3 separate regions of the Homo sapiens genome follow, and all the other regions are linked to region 3. Evidence: fine-mapped expression QTL. A gene starts in region 3. Each other region holds a variant in brackets. All regions are shown on one strand. Distances are between the middles of the regions.

Region 1 (4,000 bases), 49 kb after region 3:
ACTGCTTTGAGGTTCTCCAGATTGGGGGAAGTAAGGCTTTCCTCCCCAGTTTTGAGTCTGCGGGTCTCTGGGCAGAAGACCTCCCTGGGATCCAGGCCTCCCTTTGCCTCCATCATGGGAGCAGGCTTTACTTCCAGCCCCTCGGGCCTGAGGGACAAGAGCCAAAGCCTCTCACCCGCACCCTGTCCCAGCCCTGCCAAGAGAGGAAGCCCTGGAAAATGCCAGGCCCCTGGGAGGCTCCTAGGTCCTGGGAGCAGGATGTCTGGCTTAAAAGCCCCTGGGAGCTGCTGCTCTGACGGGAGAGGAGGCAAGAAGGGCCCCGAGAGACAGGTCCAGTTGGAGGGCAGAGGGGGCGGGAGGGGAGGAGTGAAGGAGGCAACACCAGGCAGCTCGCCTTGGACGCTCCCCAAATGGCAGCAAAGGCCCAGCCGGCAGGGGCCTGGGGCAGAGCCAAGTCCTAGAGAAAGAAAGAGAGAAAGGGTCAAGGGAGCCCAACCTCTCGCAGATGCTCCTTGCTCCTCCCATTTCCCAGCCCTTCTTGTTTCTTGCTTGGAAGTCTCTTCCTCGCCCCACTGCCCTTCCTTTTCTTTCTGTCTTATTTTTTTGAGAGAGAGTCTCTCTCTGTCACCCAGGCTGCAGTGTAGGCTTGAACCCCACCTGGGTTCAAACGATCCTCCCACCTCAGCTTGCTGAGTAGCTGGGACTACAGGTGCGTGTGCCACCATGCCTGGCTAATTTTTGTGTTTTTTGTATAGATTGAGTCTCGCCATGTTGCCAGGCTTGCCCTTCCTTTTATGCTTTTCTTTTCTTTTTTCTTTTTTTTCTTTTCTTTTTTTTTTTAAACAGAGTCTTGCTCTGTAGCCCAGGCTGGAGTGCAGTGGCGTGATCTTGGCTCACTGCAATCTCCGCCTCCCGGGTTTAAGCAATTTTCCTGTCTCAGCCTCTCGAGTAGCTGAGACTACATGTGCATGCCACCACATCCGGCTAATTTTTGTATTTTTTTGTAGAGACAGGGTTTCACCATATTGGTCAGGCTGGTCTCGAACTCCTGACCTCAGGTGATCCACCTGCCTTGGCGTCCCAAAGTGCTGGGATTACAAGCATGAGCCACCGCGCACAGCTCCTTTTCTGCTTTTCTTTAGGCCTCATCATAAATATCACTCTTTGGAGAAGACTTCTGAGACTCCTAGCCTAGGCGAGAGTGCCTGCTGCCTGCTCTCATCCCTCCATGAACCTCTCCTCCAAGGGCACTCGGCTGAGTTAGGGTCATGTAGTCATTTGTGTGCTTTTTATTTAATGTCTGTGAGCCCAACTCTTTGGGGGCAGGGGCTGTAGTTGTTTTATTTTCCCTCGAATCTACCCAGTCTGGACATAATCAGTGCTCAAGAAAAATGTGTCCAGTGAATAAGGGAAGGATATTCTCTGCTATATCTCAATGGATCCATTCTTCACTCCCTGCCCCTGCAGCAAGGGCCTCCAGTCTAGCCGGGCAAAGAACTGGTTGTGTGGCCTTGGCCTTGTCATTTAAATTTGCAGTCCTCTGTTTCTTCATCCATAAAATCCCCTCTCCTAGCTTGGATTAAGCTGTGTCATGGGTAAGAAGAGGCCCTGCAGAGTGCATGACGGGAGGCCCAGGGCAGGTATGGGGAGCCCCAGCCTCCTTCTTCTCTGTCTCACTCTGGTCCATAACTTTCCACCTCCAAAAAGGCTTCCTTCTTCCTGCTCCTTCTAATCCTGCCTCTTTCCCTCTCCAACCCTGCCAGGGCCCTACAATAGGGCCTCCCAGCTGGGGGCCTTGGAGATGACTATATAGAACTTCACATCACTTTCTGTATTTCGAAAAGCCTAACTGCAATTCCACATTTTTCTTAGCAAGACCACATCATTTAACTAAAAGAACAAGCATCAACCCAACTTAGTCACATTGGTTGGGCTGTAGTGAATAAAAACTGGAAAAACAGGCCAGGTGTGGTGGCTCACGCTTGTAATCCCAGCACTTTGGGAGGCCGAGGCGAGCGGATCACCTAAGATCAGGAGTTCGAGACCAGCCTGACCAATGTGATGAAACCCCGTCTCTACTAAAAATACAAAAATTAGCCGGGCGTGGTGGCACGCACCTGTAATCCCAGCTACTTGAGAGGCTGAGACAGGAGAACTGCTTGAACCCGGGAGGCGGAGGTTGCAGTGAGCCAAGATCACACCATTGCACTCCAGCCTGGGCAACAAAAGTGAAACTCTGTCTCAAAAAAAAAAAAAAAAAAAAACCTGGAAAAACAAATTAGTTATTACTTAATATGTCCAGTGTATTTGATAAGAAGAATATTTCTGAAGTCAGATCTATGTAGGGAGAAAACAGTGACAGTGATCCTCTAAAGAACAAGTGTGGAGGCCCCTATCAGAACACCCTCTCTCTGGGTCATTGTCCTTTTCCTTGGGTCCTTAGATGAGGTGGAGACTGCTGTTGCA[C/T]GGGAAGGCTGTGTCCCTCGGGGCTCCTGAGGGCATGTGGAAGAGATATTTTTATTTCTAAGAGTCCTCCTCTCATTCTCCAACAGGTTCCCAACCTTTCCCAGCACTGGCCCTGCAGCTCCCTGCCTCCGGCTCAATAGACCTGGCACTCCCGGAAGCAGCTTCCTTTCTTGGCACCAAATGCTCTGAGTGAGGGGTGGAGGTGAGGGGCTGGCACAGGCTTCTGGAATCTCAATCTAGAAGTGGGGCATGTGGCTGCTTCCAATCTTCTGGTGACCTATACCTGCTTAGCATCCCTTAGGGCCAAAGCATAGGCAGGGCATGTGTGTTTGCCTGCAGAGGGGAGGGAGGTGCAAAATAGCCCACTCCAAGTGGGGCTTGGGAGGGAACACTTTTTTCTTTCTTTCTTTCTTTCTTTTTTTTTTTCTACCACTATCCACCTGGAGAGGGAACACTTTTTTCTTTCCCTTATAGTTTCCTAAAGAGAGAAGCTCTCTGCCCAAGGCATTCCCAGAGCTGGGACGGGGTGGGTGGGGGTGGAGAAACAGGGAGGACTGTTCAGGTGCTATTTAGCTCCAGGCTGCCAGACCAGGCCCAGCGAGTCCCAGCAGGCCCTGGAGCACCCCACACCCATGGCCTCAGCTGCACTCCCAGGGGTGCAGAGCTTGGGCCCCCAGCAGCTCAGGGGTGGGGTGAAGGCCATGGATCCTTCTTCCATGAAATTGGCTGGAGTAGAGGGGCAATTCTTTGACCTCTGCACAAGAGCCTTGGTTTGGCCAAGTGTCTCTGTGATCTTTTTCACAGAAAATCTGATACTGTCAGTTCCCAGCTCACAGCCTCTGTAAGAGCTGATGTCTGCCTCCATTTCCACCTCTTCTCCCACTCATTGGCCATGTGTTTCTGCACTGGCCTTCTCCCAGTCTCTCTGTTCCAGGGCCATTGCATGCACTATTCTCTCGCTCGCCCTCTGTTCCAGGGCCATTGCACACACTATTCTCTCGCTCGCCATGCTCTCCCTACTCCCTCTGAGCTAAGCTGACACTCACGTATACTTTGGGTGTCATCTCAAGTGTCACTTTGTCAAGGAAGTCTTCCCTGATGCCCTCGGCACCCTGCACTTCTCCTCTGCAGCAGTTAGCACAGTTATAATCACTTATCGATCATTAGTTGAATATCTGCACCCCCCTTGCCTATAAGTCCCATAAAGGCAGTGTTGCTCACATTGGCTTCCTAGCCCCTAGGACAGTGCCTGGCAAATTAAACAGGAGGTCATTAAGCATCTGTTGAAAGAAGAAATGAATGAGTGAGTGAATGAGTGAATGAACCCTATCTTCCCAATCTCTCTCCAGCTGAGCCTCCTTCTTCATCCCATGGCCGTTGTCTTGGTTACCGCCCCATCATCTCCTGCCTAGATTATCTTCAAAAGCCTCCCAACTCCAGTCTTATGCTTCCTCCAACCCAAACTCTACACACACACAGTCATCTTTATAAAATGAAAGTCTGGCAGGGCGCGGTGGCTCACGCCTGTAATCCC
Region 2 (4,000 bases), 37 kb after region 3:
TATTTTTGAGGTGGAGTCTTGCTCTGTCACCTAGGCTGGAGTACAGTGGCATGATCTCAGTTCACTGCAGCCTCTGCCTCCTGGGTTCAAGTGATTCTCCTGCCTCAGCTTCCCAAGTAGCTGAGAGTACAGGCGTGCACCACCACACCTGGCTAATTTTTTAATTTTTTTATTTTTAGTAGAGATGGGGTTTCACTATGTTGGCCGGGCTGGTCTCGAACTTCTGACCTCAAGTGATCCACCCACCTTGGCCTCCCAAAGTGCTGATATTACAGCCGTGAGCCACCGTGCCCGGTCCTTTTCAAGCATTTTAGTACCTAATCAAGTCAACACAAATCTATATATGTATTTTCCCCCTTCTTAAACAAATAGTAAAATCCCACATATACTCTTCTGCTCCCACTTTTTTCTTTTAAGACAAACTTGAGAGGTAATTCCACATCAGTACATAATAAGCTTCTGCTTTCTTTTTGACAGTGCATAGTGTTCCGTTGTATGGATGTACCATTATTTGTTTAATCAGCACACCAAAGGTGGACATTTAGGCGCTTCCGATATTTTTCTTTTGAAATCATGCTGCATCAAATTTCCTTGTGATTTTGCACCTGTACCAGTATATCTGTATCATCTCTGTTTCATAGTTGGGGCAGCTGGGGCTCGAGGTGATGAAATGACATGTCTAAGATCACAGACGGTCATCAAAGCAAGTTCTACAGCCCAGCCACCGTCAGAGTTTCTCTCCAGTACAGCATGGAGCCTGGATTTTAGTTCAGCAGCCCTTGTTGCGTGTTGCCATATGCCAGACCCTATCTAGGCCCTATCTAGAGCTTGATAGGGCCTCGTCCCTGCCCTGGGGCAGCTTACATTCCAGGGTAATTTGCACACGATGCAGTCAGTGCTATGATAAAGCTAGGCACAGAGGAAAGGCAGTTGACCCTGCCTGTGGTGTCAAGATGAGCTTCTGGGCCGGGAAATATTTAGGCCGGGTGTGGTGGCTCACGCTGTAATCCCAGCACTTTGGGAGGCAGAGGTGGGCGGATCATGAGGTCAGGAGATCGAGACCATCCTGGCTAACATGGTGAAACCCCGTCTGTACTAAAAAAAAGTACAAAAACAAAAAAATTAGCTGGGCGTGTTGGCGGGTGCCTGTAGTCCCAGCTACTCAGGAAGCTGAGGCAGGAGGATGGTGTGAACCCGGGAGGCGGAGCTTGCAGTGAGCCGAGATCGCGCCACTGCACTCCAGCCTGGGCGACAGAGCAAGACTCCGTCTAAAAAAAAAAAAAAAAGATGAGCTTCTGAGCAAACTCCTAAAGGATTAGGAGGAGTTAGCCTAAGAAGACGGCAGGCATGGCCTGTCAGTCGGAGGGATGAGCAGACATCCAAAGCACAGAAACACAAGCGATTTGGTACCACCAGGGTGCCAAGCGGGTGTTGGGAAGTGGCTGCAGAAGTGTGTCTGTGAGTGCGTGGGGTCCAGTGATGAGCTCCTGGATTCCATGTTGTAGGGAGCTTGGGCCTGGCTCTTTAGGTCTCATCTGAAGTCCATGGACTTTCTAGGAAAATGTTAACTTTTGTGTCTTACTTTTAATGATAATATAAAAAACAAATGAGATAATCATGGTTTGGATCATCTGGGTGGCACTTTATAACCTGTATTGCCAAATGATTTCAGTGTCTGCATTCGTCTTTGTGTTTGTGATGAGCTGGCACCAAGTAGTGCTGCTTTAATTGTCTCAGCTAATTAGAAAAGAACAGAGGAGGACTTAATATGTAAATGATGCGTTTGAGCCTGGAGGAGGCCAAATGTCCTCCCAGCAGGCTGAATGAACAAAGGGTGAGCAGAAGTTCCAATAGAGAAAAGTGGTGGGAGAAGTGAGTCATTGCACAGCGTGCCAAACTCCAGAGACCCTGAGCTGGAACTCTCCATTCCACGATCGCATTTTGTG[C/T]AGCAATTAGTTTCAGCAAACATCATCTGTCACAATACATTAATGTTTTTATTTTAAAATGTATTGGCTTTATAGTTTTGTTTCTATTTAATTGGTAAATTGCCATTGCTTTTATAGTTTTATGTGCCATAAATATATATTTATACCTAGTTTTATGTCTATATCTTTTTAAATGACATTATAGTACATATAAATTATCATCACTAGGGGGATAGAGAGATTTTTTTTTTTCCTTTCAGGGGAGCCATTGAAGAGTTTTAAGTTAAATGATCAATATGGAGTATGGATTGGAAAGGGACAAGATTAGACTATCTGTAGGGCCTAAACTAAGTCAGTGTAGAGTTGTCCAGGAGAAAGCAGATTTCGGAAATGTTTAGAAGGTGAAACTGATCGGATCTGGCAACCTACTGGGTATAGGCGGTGGGGGAAAAGACAGCATGGGCTGACACCCTGGTTCCTGCTTTGGTATAATTGGATGTATTGTGGTGTCATTAACTAAAGCAAGGAACAGAAAGAAAAGGAGAGCGGAAGGCAGCACCAGGTGTTGAGACAAAGAGTTCCATTTTGGACATGCTAAGTTTGAGATGCCTATGGGACATCCAGGCAGCAATGCTCAGTGGGCATTTGGACCCATGACCTTGAAGCTTGAGCCAGAGGTCAGGGCTAGTCATACAGATCTAGGAGCAGTCAGCATTTAGGTGGTGGTTAAGGCACAGAGAGAAGCCCAGATGGAAACTCTCTAGGAAGGATGTGTAAAATACACAGAGCTGTGGACCAGTGTTCTGGAGAACCCCAAAGTCGAGGATACAGAGGAATGCCCAGAAATGAGTTTGAAAAGCAACAGTCTTAGGAAAGAGAGAATTGGGAAGGGATGGATATTGGCAGCTAATGGAACAAAGGGCTGTCCATGATGTCACAACCAGAGGACAAAATAAGATAAGGACAAAAATGTGGTCACTGGATTTAGTACTATGAAAGTCATGGAAAAAAACACGGCACCACTCTCCTTCCTAAGCCCCCAGCACAACCTTGGAATCCTTCTTGACCATGTGCTTCCTAGTTGCGTCCCAGTCAATTAACTGGAGTTGGCACAAGAGCTAACACCTGCTTGACTTTCCTTGTTTGGTACAGGTGGAGGGGTTACATCACTGGGTCAGGAACAACCCATTCTTGAGACTAGAAGTAAGGACTGGCGGAAGGAAAGGAAGCCCTAGTAGGAAGTACAGTAGACTTTGTTTTTTTATTTGTTTTGTTTTGTTTGTTTTTTTGAGACGGAGTTTTGCTCTGTCGCCTACGCTGGAGTGCAATGGCGCTATCTTGGCTCACTGCAACCTCCACCTCCCAGGTTGCAAGCCATTCTCCTGCCTCAGCCTCCCAAGTAGCTGGGATTGCAGGCATCTGCCCCCATGCCCAGCTAATTTTTGTATTTTTTAGTAGAGACGGGGTTTCACCATGTTGTTCAGTGTGGTCTTGAATTCCTGACCTCCGGTGATCCACCTGCCTCAGGCTTCCAAACTGCTGGGATTAGAGGTGTGAGGCACTGCGCCTGGCCAAGGAATTGCAGTAGACTTTGGAGATGAAGGGAGTGGGATGTGGGTGGGGGAAGATTTAGAACAGATGCTGAGAGCTGACCCAGGACTAGCAAAAGGCTTGTGAGGGCCAGATGAGGTTGGAGAGGGAGGGGTTTATGGTAGCAACAAGTCTTGCAGTTGGGAGATTTTCTCCATCAGTTCACAGCAAGTTGATGGTAGGAAAAGTGAGTGTGATTGACACTCAGGGGTTCATACATAGGTTTTACTTTTCCTGATGACCTGGAACAACTCTCCTCAGGGGCCTTTGAACCTGCAACTAAAAAATAAATGGATGGACTGGACGATATCCCTGGCTCCATTGCTAAGTCCTGGCAGTGGTCCATGGTATCTGAGCTGCGTGGGTCTCATGGCATTAGGATGCCCAAAGACCCAGTCTCACCTGTTGCTTGCTTTCTTCTGGCTGAACCCTCCAGGTATTTATGGTGGTGGTCACTCAGTTTTCCCCTGTGGTTGCCCTGCCTG
Region 3 (4,000 bases):
CTTTCATTTGCTTGTTCAGTCCTTCAACCACCCATCTATCCAGTTAGGATGTGTGCAGTGCCCACAAAACACACCCCCCACAGCAAGGTTCTCATGGGGAGAAGCGTTGAGGAGGGGTAGGGGAGGGAAGGAAAAGGCAGACACCTTACAAAGTTGTACCAATCATTTGGAGGTAAGAATTGCAACCACACAGTAACATTACCAGTGATAGAGGTGGCTGGGCAGACTCTTGGGGCAAGGGGTGTCATGTGTTCAGACTCTGAGGGCCAGTGCTGCTGCCCAGCAGGCCTACGAGCCCAAAACAATTTCTTCTGGCTCCAGGCAGAGGGAAGGCCCATTTTGCAGAGTCAAGCTTATTAAGAACAGCTTGGAAGATTAAACCTAGAGCATCAGCCGGTTGGCAGGTCTCAATTCAAACTCTAAGCTTGGAGGAGAGGAAATTCTAATGTGATCTATGCATTTTGGGACCATGTCAGCTACTGGTAAAAATCCAGACTTGCATGGGTGCAAAGGATGTTTCTGTCCCATCATTCAGGCCAAGAACATCCTCTTCATTTCTAGAAATGGGATCCACCCCGTCACCAAGCCCCACCATTCCATACCAACCAGCCTGGTGGAGGCCCACGCCTCTGCCAGGGCCCTTCTCCCAGCAGCTCCAACACCTAAAGCCAGTCCCCCTAGTGCAACCCTAGGAGCTCACAAGACTGGCTTGCCCCCACCTGAGACTAGCAAGTTGGGTGGACTCAAATTCAGCCTCTACCCTGGCAAAAGTCAAAAGCCACTGGAAGCACATCCTCCTCCTTTCCCTCTCCTGGCTTCACTGTTTATTGCTTATATTCAAAAGACGCTGAATCAAGAGCTATGTTTTTGCACATAACCACATAGGCTGACAGTCCCCAGAGACTAATGCTCCTAGCCCACCAATTCCCATAGCCCACCCAGACCCCTATTTTCAACCATTTATTAAAATGCAACACCACCCCTCCCAGTCTTTCCTTTAGTCAATGTTGAAAAATCAAATTATTAGCAAACCTACCTGTCTATACTCTGGGGTAACCTTACACTCATGGTTTCTCGGTGTCTCCACGGTTCCAGAATCCTGTAGCTTTGGTGTCTTGATCAGGATTGAATCGCTTGCAATTTTTGAGCAAGGTGAGAGGAGGGCCTCCCAACTTGAAGATAGAATCCTTTCTCCTCCAGCTCTCAGGACCCTGGTAACTGATGCTCCACTCTACTTCTACCAGTGAACATGATTTCCTTTCTCAGCCCCTCTTCCCCTCCCCCGCTTTAAAAAAAAAGAAAAGAAAAGAAAAAAGAAAAAAAAAGGAAAAGAGGAAAAACTACGACCTTCTCAGAAACCAAAAACCCAGCCACGAATCTCTTCAAGGTTAGCACTATGGCCAAAAAAAAATGAATCACAGAAAAATGTGCCTTCAAAATATCACTGTTAACTGCAAAGTACAGATAAAACCATCCTTTAAATCCAGCTTTCTCAGCTGTCCTTCTGTTGGCAAGAGACCCTCTAGCTCAAAGGGGGAAAGTAATTTTCTAGTCTCCAATGCTTAATATGACAACAGCAAATATCTTTGAGGAAAGGAAAAAAAAAAGGATTAATAAATCCGAAATGGCACTTGGAAAAATTCTTTCGGCTGATTTGTACAGTAAAATAATAAATAAAACCATACAATAGTATGTACACAACAGCACTCCTTCCAAGTCCAGTGCAACCCTGGGAACCAAAATTTATGGACTTCCTTAAAAAAAAAAAAGCTTTTACATTAAATGTTTTGAAATTCTTAAATGAGCCAATTGCACCAAAAAAAAAAATAAAATAAAAATCAAAGAACACCTGAAATGCAATGCTTTTTACCTTTAAGATGGTAGTAATGATAACAAACCAGAGATAATCTCTGAAAATATTCTCTCCTTTTCTTTTTCCTTTAAACTTGCAGGTTCCTCCACCTACCCCAGCCTGATTCTCAGACCCAGCCTACGTTCGGCCTTTTTCTGAAAGACAATTTCCTGAGTTAGTTCTGCTGTTGGGCTCCTCCACATCCAGGCTCCGAAATTTTCTCTTGCCTCAGCCTCCATGAAACGGAGATTTCGCTTCCTCCCGTTCCCCCTTCTCTCTCCCTCTCTCTCGCCCGGCCAGAAAGACGGCTCCCTTATTATTCGTTCGGATTATTATTGTGGATTTGAGTTCGAGGTGGGTTTTTCTTCCACACCAGACTCCTGGAAAATCCGATCGCCTGTCTCCTCTCGGCCTCTCCTTGCCTCCCTTTCCGCCCCTCGCCTAATCTCGCAGGCAGGAGCCCGCAGTGCCTCGCGCAGGACGCCCGGCCGGGCCTCGGGCTCCCGGCGCCGCTCGCCCCGCGCCCGACCGCCGTGTTCCGGCCTTCGCGGCCGCTCGGGACGCCAGGCTCGGCGCACAGGGAAGGCTGCGGCGGCTGCGGCAGGCCGGCACGAGCGGGCGTCCGACTGCCGGCGTCGCGGCCGCGCTCGCCTCCTTCCGGGCCCCTTCCCCCTCGGTTCGCCGCTCGCTCGGGCGCAGGCCCGGCCGGCCGCCCCCCTTCCCTCCCTCCTTCCCTGCGAGCCTTTCTCCTTCCCTCGCTCCCGCGGGGCGGGGCCGCAGGCTCCTCCTCCTCGCTGCGCTGCCCGCCGCCCGCCGGCCTTTCCCCTCACGCCGCGGCGGCCGGGGGCGGGGGCGGGAAGCTGACCGCCTTTCCCTGCCTCGGTTCCCGCGGCCGCGACTCCCGCCGACCGGCCCGCCCCTGTCCCGGCCTCCCTGCGCGCCCTGCCCCCCACAACCCTTTGCCGTCGCTCCTCGGCCGGTCCCCTCTGCGGCCCCTCAGTCGCCGGCCCTGCCCCTCGGCGCGGCCTAGCGGGTTCCCATCTCAGCCGGATCCCCGGCCCGGCCCGCGGGCGACCCCGGCCCTGACCCCGCCAGGCACCGCGCGCCGTCCCCGCCGCCGCCACCGCCACCGCCACCCCTGCCGCCTTTTCGCCGCTTTTCCTCGGCTGCTTTTCCCCCTTTTATTGACTTCTGCTCGGGAGCCGACCTTTGTTTCCTACCCCCTGCCCGCCCAGCCACCGTGCCCGCGCCCCGTGCCCCTGCCCACGGGTGCAGGTTTACCTCTTTGCGTCCACCGGCATTACCCCGGCGCCCGCAGCTGCGGCTCACCCTCTCTCCACCTCTCTTCTGATCTTATTTTTCAAACATTTGTTGCGGCCTCCTTCGTGGTGTCAGTTCTTTTAACTGTTTCCTCCCGTTTCTGTGGTCCTTCCCACTTCTAATACCACCGACTTAGGGGGAAGACCCTTCGCTGTTTCCTCTCGGGTTGGGTTGGGCATCTTAATAGCAGGCTGTGTGAAGTGTCTTTGAACTCTATGGAAGAGCCTTTCCAGAGCAATTCTATTTTCATAACCCCCTCTCATAGAATCACAGTTTCTAAATCTTTACAAGTAACGTGACATTTGTCAGAAGGTGCCGAGCGTTATGATTAAAAATCATTAAGGCCGAGGCGGGGCCTGAGGTCAGGAGTTCGAGACCATCCTGGGCCAACATGGTGAAACCCCCCCCCTCTACTAAAAATACAAAACTAGCCGTACGTGGTGGCGCGTGCCTGTAATCCCAGCTACTCGGTAGGCTAGGGCACGAGAATCGCTTGAACCCGGGAGGCGGAGCTTGCAGTGAGCCGAGATTGCGCCACTGCACTCCAGTCTGGGCAACAGAGCGAGACTCCGTCTCAAAAAACTAATAATAATAAAATTTTTTTTAAAAAATTATTAAAATAAAAAAACTCTCACTAGGATTGGGGAGTGGACTTTGCCTTCTTGCCTAGGTAAATGCCATTGTAAAATACTCTGCAGGCAGTGGGGTGTTTGCATAAGTTCTCTCCTTTCACACTACCTGGATTGTTCTGGGAGGGGGTGGATATGTATATGTAAATTATCTATACACATTCGTGAGCTCTGGAGTGACCTCACCAGTGTTAGAAGT

What was found. PIP is the estimated chance that this variant, and not a neighbour inherited with it, causes the effect.
Region 1: its variant is the best candidate, but not a certain one, in a credible set for the expression of ARHGEF11 in whole blood (TOPMed, PIP 0.85).
Region 2: its variant is the best candidate, but not a certain one, in a credible set for the expression of ARHGEF11 in whole blood (INTERVAL, PIP 0.81).

What each region holds. Positions count from the first base shown.
Region 1 is chr1:157,092,671-157,096,670 of GRCh38, forward strand. ETV3L (ETS variant transcription factor 3 like) reads right to left here. Exons shown (of 5, transcript NM_001004341.2): 5 at 1-457. Among named protein-coding and RNA genes, the nearest start is that of ETV3L, 5.1 kb to the right of the region's middle. The variant C/T (reference allele first, on the strand shown) is at 2,467.
Region 2 is chr1:157,080,063-157,084,062 of GRCh38, forward strand. No RefSeq gene overlaps it. Among named protein-coding and RNA genes, the nearest start is that of ETV3L, 18 kb to the right of the region's middle. The variant C/T (reference allele first, on the strand shown) is at 1,947.
Region 3 is chr1:157,043,263-157,047,262 of GRCh38, forward strand. It overlaps ARHGEF11 (Rho guanine nucleotide exchange factor 11), which reads right to left and starts at 2,480. Exons shown (of 41, transcript NM_198236.3): 1 at 1,037-2,480. The coding sequence starts at 1,068. RefSeq lists a silencer at 2,391-2,690.